2 separate regions of the Homo sapiens genome follow, and region 2 is linked to region 1. Evidence: fine-mapped expression QTL. A gene starts in region 1. The other region holds a variant in brackets. All regions are shown on one strand. Distances are between the middles of the regions. Region 1 holds the start of PTCSC3 (papillary thyroid carcinoma susceptibility candidate 3). Region 2 has its middle 38 kb from the start of PTCSC3.

Evidence for each region.
Region 2: its variant is fine-mapped to the expression of PTCSC3 in lung (TOPMed, PIP above 0.99).

What each region holds. Positions count from the first base shown.
Region 1 is chr14:36,174,260-36,179,646 of GRCh38, reverse strand. It overlaps PTCSC3 (papillary thyroid carcinoma susceptibility candidate 3), which reads left to right and starts at 2,925. Exons shown (of 4, transcript NR_049735.3): 1 at 2,925-3,349.
Region 2 is chr14:36,211,968-36,217,354 of GRCh38, reverse strand. No RefSeq gene overlaps it. Among named protein-coding and RNA genes, the nearest start is that of PTCSC3, 38 kb to the right of the region's middle. The variant C/T (reference allele first, on the strand shown) is at 2,782.

The sequences.
Region 1 (5,387 bases):
TGTGATTTAATTAAAATTTACATATTTAAAAGCAATAAATCTGCAGCTGCTTCTTCATAAAAAAAAATTTGGTGTATGTCTCTTTGCCTATTTTTTACCACCATCCTGCAAGACTATCCTGCTGAAAAGACGTACACCGCTATCCATCCACCATTTTACATTGCTACATGTCCCAGAAGAGTCTTAAGGCAATTAGACTAAGTATATGCTATGAATAGATTTCTTTTTAAATTTTAACAGCTTTAAATGACTTTTTCCTAAACCTGAAAAATATTTATCACATTGTGGAAATATACAGAAAAATAATTCAACTGACAACGTATAGGAAAGTAAAGTCGTAAGTAGAAATTTTTGTTATTTGGTGATATTGTAAGAACTGGGAGAAAGTAAATCCAAAGCAAGACATGTGCATGTGACTTCACTGTATTGAACAACTTATCCTCAGTAGGACAAAAGTTTTTCTTTATTCTGATTCCAAAAACCTTATTACAAACCTTTTATTGTTAAGTACTATTTCATATCTATTTTTAAATGATACAATGTATACAAACACAAATAGATAGTTAATAAGGCAATCTTGAAATTTATTAGGTGATTATATCTAAAAGTAGTCATACATTCTTTATATATTTATAATAATTACATGCCTTGTGTCTGTATCCTTGCAAATTTTTATACTGTCTCCAGGTAATTTATTTTATGGAATATTGCCATATGATATATTTCCCTTTCTCAGTGTCCTCAGGAACCCCTGAAATACAAAAGCACTCTTAACACACAGTTTTTTTAATTGGCAAAATAATGGAACTTAGAATGTTAGAATATTGTAATATTCGAAGAATGTTAGAATATTGTAATATTCGAAGAATGTTAGAATATTGTAATATTCGAAGAATGTTAGAATATTGTAATATTGGAAGTTCCATTTATTACACCGATTAAACAGTGTAGAATAACATTGAAGATGTAGATGTCATGCAGTCAAGTCTAAGTCTGCAAAGCCCATTCCCCTCCCTCCCAGGGCCATCATGGTCCCGAGTGGAATCCTAAGGTGACACCTGGAATGTGCCTGCCTCTGAGAGCAGCCTTTTGGCTCCCCAGGCCTCAGTTGCGTTCCTGGAATATGAGAAGTTGCTTGGAATTGCTTTTCCACAGCCTCTGTTGAACCTGTGTCTCTCTCTGTGGATTATGGCTCTGCTCCTTGGTTACTTCAATTTAGAATAGCTTTCTTTTCTAGGTTTGTTTTTTTTGAAATGGGGTCTTGCTCTGTTGTCCAGGCAATAGTGCAATAGTGCAATCATGACTCAACCTCCCAGGCTCAGGTGATCCTCCCACCTCAGCCTCTGGGGTAGTTGGGACTACAGGCACGCACAACTATCCTGACCAATTTCTTATTTTTGGTAGAGAGAGGGTCTCTTGATGTTACCCAGCCTTGTCTTGAACTCCTGGCTTCAAGAGATCCTCCTGCCTTTGCCTCCTAAAGGACTGGGTTACAGGTATGAGCCACCAGACCTTGCCTTATTTTCCAGGTTTTGAGAAGCTACAAGTGAGATAATTATTGCTGCCTGTCTAACCTATTCTCTTCCACACATTGCGGAGGTCACTGGAAGAAACAGTAAATCACAAACTCTTTTTCTTCTATCCATAACTTTTCCTGCCTCATTTAGAATTACCACTCTTGACAACAGGACCCCCCATTTTTGTCTATCACCTTATTAAATCTTCTGTCAAATTGCTTTATTTAAAACATTTTGCAAACTTAGAGAAACTCTGGTTATAACTAAAAATTGTAAGCTGACAGTCATTTTAACTGGTTGCTCTAAGAGGGTGGCAGAATTCCTCTTAAAGAGCAAACTGCTCTTTTGTTGGGAAAGCATTCAGTGGGCTTTTCTGAGTGTGGGGGTGGACCCCAGGAGAGTCTGGGTAGGAGAGGGTCAGCCTGAAAGAGAGCCAAGTTTCTCTGCACCATCAAGTCACAGGAATTTTGGAGTGGGTTCCACCCACCACTGCAGGGCTGAGGAAGGTCAGACCATGAGAGAGAGACATTGAAAACAAAAAGCTTTCTTAGAGTCCAGGGAGCAGGCCCCAGAAATACCCAGTTGAGAGTGCCACCAGTAAGGACTCCTCGAGGGGGAGACTTCAGAAAACTTTAGCAATAGTGTGACCAGGATTCAATTTTAAGTCAGTCCATGTTTTGTGCTATCATTCCTCTACATTGCTCATATAAAACAAGAAAATACAATAACACACTGCTAATCACAAGAGCATTATCATGAAGAAAAGGGTGGTGAGTCCATATTTTGAAGCAAAGCAAACTAGAATGGGCTGGGGCAGCCTGGAAAGGCAGTGGGCAGATGGAGGGAAGAAATTGAAAAAGTCAGGAGCAAGAGAAAAATGGGAAGAACCAAGTCTCAACTCTAGAATCTGCTGGAAAATTGAAGAACACGTTAGACTTCCCACAATTTAGGGGATGGCTGTTAAAGAAAAGGATGGCCTCAGAAGGACAGAAGAGTTAAGGACTTTGGGGTTTTATGGATAATCCTTATATGAAACATTACATGTTTTTTTCACTGCTTAAACAACAGACTTCAGCAATGATGTATGTCAGAGAAATGGGCACAGAAAGTGAGGAAGGACTGTGTGCCTGCAGTTTGTCCCATTAAATTGTGGCAATGAAGGCAGGAAGCCTCGTGTATATTCACATATAATAGTAATAAGAAAAAGATCAACAGAAAGTGATTATGCAACATTCAACATTTTTGCGGTACCCAAAGACTTCATTGAGTTGATTCATCTTAATATTGTCATTTTGATACAAAATATCTTTGCAGGATATTTGTAGGCACAGCTACCCCAAATCCCATTTGCATTAATCTAAAACAGACTTGCAGGCCCAGTTCCAGAAATTCCTTGGGCAAGTCCATAACGCACATTCACCGTCAGGCATGAAGGAATAGCTTATCCAGCAGAAATATCGGAGGCCAGGCCCCAGTACAAACTCCTTCAGACTTCTCAGTACTCAAGACATCTCAAGTTTTTGAAGAGTAAAGTATAAAATACTGGCAGGGGTGGGTAGGGGGAACAGGATAAATTGGTGATGGCCCAGAAAAAATATCCAGGGGGATCGCATTTTTCTTCTCCAAAGCAAAACAGAATTCATAACTGAAAGAGGAATAGAGAAAGAGGAAAAAAGTGATCTGGGACCTGTTGTTTTTCTTGCATCCCATTTCTACTCTGCCTGTGAGTGAAGACTGTTGTGGAAAAGTCAACTGGAGAGACCAGGTCAAAGGCCAAGCAGAAGAGGAATTAGGCTTAAGACTGCACTGAGAGGGAACACTAGACCATGGTGGTAAGTGTTCTTGTTGCATCTGTTGGTCTTTCATTAAATAATGGCATTTCAGCTGGGTTGTAGCCTCCTTAGCTCTCACTCATTGCATCTTTGATGTTTCACCCAAAGGTATAATTATATTGCATTAGTATACTGTTTTGGCCTCTGAAAACCTTAATATTGCTCTCTGGAGAAAGGACAGTTTAATCACTCACATGACATTATGTACATATGTATGTATTTGTATCGTTTTCTTAACTGAAAGTCCTTCTCCCACCTCCTTGACACTCCCAAACTGCTATTTGCTACCCACATTTGTCTTCTGTTGTTGGTTCTTTTCTTTCTACATGAATTTAATACACTTATGGGAATAAAGCTCTTTCTGAAATTGGGAGAAGCCCTCCCAAGTTGTCATCCCAGTTGCCAACTTGGAAACCTGTTTAATTCTGGAAGAAAACCACAACAATCATGTCTCATTTTGGAAAGTATCTTTCAGAGGACATAATCAAAGCAAATTACAAATACAAATTTCTAACTAGGTTTTCTTAGTGTTCAATGAAGTTACTCCAGTGATCCCAAAGACAAGTTAAATATAGCTGTAGGCCCAAGATCATAGAGTTAATTGGTAGATAAGTCATAACTCTAAGGAGTGGGTTCTTCCTCCTTTCTTTCTGTATCCAGCAAATGACTTAATAATTTATAAAACTACATGCTTCTGTCGGGCATATCGGGCATTTTGCTAGGCATAGCCTATATGATTTTAAGCCACATGAACTTTTGAGTTTTTGCAACTGGCTGGGACCTATTTTATGACATTTCATAGAAAGTGCTGTGGTTCTTATGTTCTTCCCAACGTGGAAATGTGATTTCAGGTAGGGTTGAAATCAAGATACTGACTCCTGAACTTCCATCTCTAACCATAATGGGATGACTGATACTGTACTAGCCCAAAACTACTCTAAAACGGGACAGAATATGTGAAGCATCCGATTTCAGGCAGTGGATAACAAGCACTGTAAGGCTGTGCTCCTTGAGAGAAGGGAAGTGCATGAGGTAAGCTACATGATTGCCTCAGCTCTGTGCCTGGAGACAATTTCCTGACCATGGTACAGAGACCTGGAGTCTGAGCAGAGCATGGCAGTCCTGTTGAGCTGGGGAGGCAGACATCAGCGTTCAGGGTAACTGAAGCAAGTAGAAACTATGGAGCCTGAATGGAGGGAGCTATGTAGAGAGAGAGGACCCCAGAATCCAGCAGGGATCTCCTGCAAATCAGTGACTGAGAGTTGGATTGTACATGTGCAGTGTGAGGCGACCCGAGCTTTACTAGATGTCAGATGCTATGCAGTTGAAAGTGGAACCAAGATTCTAGAGGTTGAGCAGTGCTTGGGGAAAAGCAGTGGCAGAGATGTCAGAGTTCTGGCCCTGCCAGAGAGGAGAGATTTATTAACATCTTGTTAAAACTCCTGACATCCAGCTCTGAGACACCACAAAGTGCACATATTAGGATTAAGGAATATGCCCCTTGAGAAAGACCAACTCTAGACTCACCCCAACAAAGCCTGAAACCAAACCCCGACAAGATTTATACAGGAGACACAGTTTGGAAAGTGACTACTGAAAGGTTAGAAGATCTTGAAAACACCTTGGACTGTCCACAGATCTATACTAGCAATGCAAAACACTAAGTCTACACAAGTTAAAGTAATAAGCCATTAAATGAACTGCCACCTCAAATATGAAACAACCATTTTTAGAGGAAGACTACAGAATCTAGACTATCTACAGTGTGTTGTCCACAGTGTTCACTATTTAATCACTAGACATACAAATAAAAATCACATTAAAAGACTCAAAAATATGATCTTAATGAGTAATCAAATGGAAAACAGCAGATAAATGGAAACTACAAATACAACTATATGAACATTCTAGAACTGAAAAGTATAGTAACTGAAATAAAAATTGAGCCTAACAGCAGATCAGACTTAACATAGAGAGTCAATGAACTTAGATACAAACCAATAGACATGCCTGAATCTGGAGAGTAGAGAGAAGAAAA
Region 2 (5,387 bases), 38 kb before region 1:
GGAACAAATGGCAGCCTATCAGAGAAGTGCACCCAGGACAATTGCACAGTTGTGATCATTTGGGGATCTCATGCAGACTCTCCCTGCAGCCCCCAGTGCACCATCAGGAGTTTCTAAGTACAAAATGAGACAAGGTAGGTGGAGACCAGGGTGTGTGTGTGTGTGTGGGTGTGGGTGTGGGTTTAATTAAGCAAACACTAGTTTGTTCCAATTGCCTTTCCAAATTGATAAGAGATTTCTTATGATGCCAGTAACTGCATAGAAATTGAAGAAAGCAAGCTAAGGCTCTATAGCTTTGGGGCATCTGTGTACTTGTTATATGACTGAATCTAATAGCTGAGACTAGAAGCTGATAGGAGAGTGAGCTTGTTGGGGGAAAGGGGGAATTCATGGAATAGACCGTACCAAGGGTTTGAGGGGCAACCACAGATGACTCAGGACTTTTGGGATGCTGTGGTGACAGTTATGGCACTCAAGTCACAGGAAAACTCATTATATCAACAGAAACCTCCCCTGAATAGATGTACATCTAATTGACATGTGATAAAAGAAATCATGCACATATCCGTTTTTAGTAAGCACTTGCTTTATTTCAAGCACCTCAACTTCCCACTGACATCCCTTTTCTGGGGAGCCTTATTTTAAGATGCCCTTTAAATTAGGTATACATAGGGAAGGAAGCAAAAGCTACAGTGCTCCTCCATGCAGCTTAATTTCTGGGAGAGAAAAAAAAATGGCTGTTTCTGTTTTTCCTTTTTTGCCTCGACACAAGAGTGTCATGCCGAGAATTATGCTGAGGCTAGGATTTAATGGCCATGCCAGGAATTGGAAGCAACAACTATGGACCAGAATGTAAATCCCATGGATGGTTTTACTTGATGCTTTTACGGAGCATGAATGAGGATGTAATTTAAAAATAAGCCCTGCATCCTATTTAAAAAGATAAGAAGGGGCTGGATGTGTGTAAATGTTTGGATTAAATATGACCAAGGACCGTATCGTATTCAAATGGCTTGGCACTTTGAAAATGATGGAATCAGGCTTCATAACGATGCAAGCATCTACCTAATGGAACTAAATTTGCAATAAAGGTGCATAGTGGAAAAGAAGGGCAGACAAGTGGCGCTGAGAATCTAAGTGAGACAGCACCAAAGAATGAAACATACTGAGTTTAAAGACTGACCTTATTGGGATCCTTTCTACTCTGACAATGAGGATGTGAATTATCCTATTATTATAAGCAGGTGGATCATCTTATTAATGTACCCTGGTCTTTCACATTTTTATTTAACTTTAAATCAAATTGAACAATTTCAGGAACAACCTCCCATCCCTCAAAGGAAACAAGCTGATGCCCAGAAATATTTTCTGTGGAGCTTTATATAATTTTTTTTTCTTTCCAGAGACACATTTTCAGCTCTGCCAAACCATAATGCTTAGGCTTTCGTTTGGATATAGCTGAGGTGTCTTGGAAGTTTCTCTGTAAATTCCTTCAAATCCAGAGGAGCTGAATGAGATTCTAAGAGGCTGTGTTCCTCTTAATGATTCCGGATGGAACAGCGTCTTTGGAATTCTGATTTGGATACTGTCAACCACTCGATAGCCCCTGCTCTAAGGGGTGGCAGATGAACCATCATCAAATGTTTTCCAAATTCATCCCTGGTACAACTCTCCCCTTAAACCAAAATTAGGCAGTAAAGTAATATTTGCTTAGAAACACTTACCAGGCACCTGCCTAATAAATGCTACCCTGGCAAAGCCTTCCCACACAAAGAAAATATTTCATCGGAAGGTCAATATCTGCAACTAATGAAAGAAATGGAGCTGTTTCAAACTCACCGACAAAGGTTTCTGTCTCACCCCCCTTTCCACTCTTTTTTCTTTTTGGTTTTGTTTCCTTTCAGCATATTTTAGGAACTAATCAGCCTTATAAAAGGTAGCACTGTTAATCTACTGTTTGTCTTGGTCTTCATCACAGCTCCTTAAGAGATAGAGTGCAAACAAAGCGAGAATTAAGGTCATTCCATTTAAATCCTTCAGAGAGGAAGACAAGGGCTAAGTTATTGCTGAGGACTACAGAGAGGAGGGCTGGAGGAATCCAGGATTAAAAAGAAAAAAAAGAAACCCTCATTGTTTATTATTTGCCAGCCTCAGAGCAGCCCCCATTCCCATATTTGTGAAGGGATTACCCTCCCATCCTCTGAGATTAATGGGAAGCCCAGACAATTCCCTGGCCCACCATGCACCCTGCACCAAAGAACATTTTCCAGAAAGGTGGGCCTGGGAGTGCACTCACTTGGGGGATGAAGAGCGTGACACACTCATCAGCCTGATGTGATTCGTCCTCCAGCTGCCGGAGATGCACAGGCAAACATAACTGCAGAGGGGATTCCATGCTTGCAGAGAAGCAAAACCACATATTAGGAGGTGGCTGTGCCCATGAAAATCTTAGCATGTATCAGATTTAAAGGGTGGAGGGGGTCCAAATAAAACAATAATCCACGCAAAAGCATTTTAGCAGCTTGTAATACTGGCCCCTTTTTTTTTGTAATCCTGATTACAACTCTACTCCCCATATTTTGGGACAGAAGTCAATTTCTTTATTTGTTGCTACCACAGTTCATTGAAGCATTACTAAAATATATTAGCTTTCAACACTAAAAAAATGTGGCAATGGGTTGATCTAAGTGACTAATGCATGGGAAATTTTTTTCTTTAAAGAAGTAAGGCCAGGAAGCAGAAATTGCCATCTACAGCCAACAACAGAGATGCAGATTCTTA[C/T]TTTGGTCACTGAATAAGGTATTTTTCAAATATTCTCCAGTATTTGGCAAGTTTGGCATATAGTAAACGCACAATAAATATTTGTTGCATGAAGAAAAATTTTGGTATTTTTGACTGCTTATACTGAAAACAATAACATGAATGTTTATGGAGCATTTACCACATGCCATGCAGTGTACTAAGCACTTTACTTTCATTGTCTCCCTTAATTTCAACATCAACACCATGAGGGTATTATCTGCATTTTACAAATGAAAAAAAAAAAAAACAAAAGCTCATTGAAGTTAAGTCACTCACCCAAGGTCACATAAGTAATCAGTAGTAAAACCAGCCCGCAGGGCCATACCATGTTCTTAATGCTGTACTGCTGCCCCTTGAAAGCAGCATTTCTTAGCTTGAGCTTAGAAAACACTCAGGATTGCTCCAGATTCAATGTGATTTTATTAGATGGACCAATTATCCTCAGAGAATCAGAGTGCTACCTTTAGCTAAGGTGTAATTGGGAAGAGGCTACCTTCATGGCAACTTCAAATTTTTTCCTTAATTCCCAGAAGAATTTAGCTACTCACAAAATACAATGACAATTCGGTGGTGCTTTGTTGAAAGTCATAGGAACAGATCTCCTGAGAGGAGTGATGCTCCTTCCCTAAGGGATATCCTACCTCCTTACCTCCCTCAGTTACCCTCCCAATCCCTGCACCAGGCGGAGTGTCAAGTTTTCCCAGGCAGGATGAGATCTATACACCCTTGGCATATGGTGGGTTCTGCCTGGCTTTCTGCAGTGTTTGATTATGATTGGCCTAGTTAATTCATTTTGTTGCATGTTCACCCCTCCTTGGAAATTGAACAGGATTAAATTGCATTTATAAAGCCCTGACAAATCACCGTGTGATTGAAATCAGAATAAAGACAAACACTGAGATCATTCTTTGAGGAAATTCTGACAGCATTTCTGGCTCAGCAGGAGTGTTTGTCCAGAGACTCACATTATCTCCTAGCCATTGGGATGCCCAGTTGTAAGCATACTGACTACACAGTAATAAATGTAGGATCTACAATCAAAGACTAACCAGAGTGAAAAGCCATACATGAAATTGTTTCCTCTTGAATAATCCTAAAACCCCATTTTAGCAAATAGTCCAATTTATTCTGTCTCCAAACTCGAGCTCACAAACAAGCTGTCACCAAAGTGGACTGAGTTATACCCATTTATTTAATTTCCCTTCCTTTGAGGAAAGTGCTAGAAAGCCTTATGGTGACCAAAAGAAAGAAGTATAACTAGCATTAAAAATTTAGAAATAACATTTTCTAAGTCAGAAATAATAAAAAGTTCCTGGACATAAAAGTAAGGCATATTTTTATTTTTAGGATATTTTGCTGAGCTATGCAATAATTTCCAGCATGATTGCTTAGCCAGTCTTAGCCGCTCCCTAGTTTGTAATACTGTACTTCCAAATAAATAGGTAAATAAGTAGAAAGAATTAAAAAGGTATTCCCATTTGTGAAATCGCCGTTAATCCCATATAACACTATGAGAAATTTTTACTAATTTCAGTACATGTTTTATTTAGAAATCTTTGGATACTCACTTCATATGGCATAATTTTTGTATTAATAGTATTTTAATATGAGAACCAAATTTTTGAGGATGAGAAACTGGAGCCCACCATCAAAACAAGAATGTCCTGTAATCCCCTTTTATTTCAAAGGTAACTATAGATCTGCTATGAGTTTATGGTAATGATGACTCAGGTTTCTATATTTCACAGTAAGAAAGTTAGTCTCAATTTTTCCGTGAAATGTATCAATCTAGTCATTGGATGACCTTTAGGGCTTTCCTGCTGAACAGGCTGTCATCCCTAGAGAGGTTGAGTATAAAATAAGTGTACTGATATGGAAATATAATAGCTTCCTTTAATGGAAAATTTCATCTGTGAAGAAAACAGATTCTTCTACCCTTTCCCCATTCAAAAGAAAAAAAATAACAAAATACAGTCAATTGAACTTATGATTTCTAGGCACCAATGTTAAACATCACATTTAGGAAATTTCTTATTGCCAGAATGTGCCTCATAATTTGTTTTAAGAAATCATCCCCAAGGTAAGACAAGCACAGAATATAAGCAGACAAACACTAATTTGAAGGGAAAACACTTTGAGAGAGATTGAATCAGCACTTTAGGGTATCAACATTCATTTCTTTACAATGAGGCCTATAAAATATATTATACATCAAACTGTTGTTGATCATTAAAAGATTTCCAGAATACAGAATGGTTACTTAACAATCCTTACACAGCTGTATGTTGTTTGCTTTGTAAGGTGACAACCAACTGGCCACATGTAGATTATTTTATAAGCATCCCTCTGAGGAAGTGTATCGAGATGGCAGACAAAACACATGCATCTACTCCTGGCTCCAACCCAAGAAAAGACAGATATTTTAAAATAATAAATTTAATGAGCATATTAGAAAATAAAAATTTCATCAGCAGACAAGAGATTCTAAGGAATCCTAGAAGATAGAAAATCAAAGGGGAGTGTATTGACAAGAACAAAACCAGAGGGAAACACAGCCCAGACCAGGAGCAGGAGAGAAGGAAAAA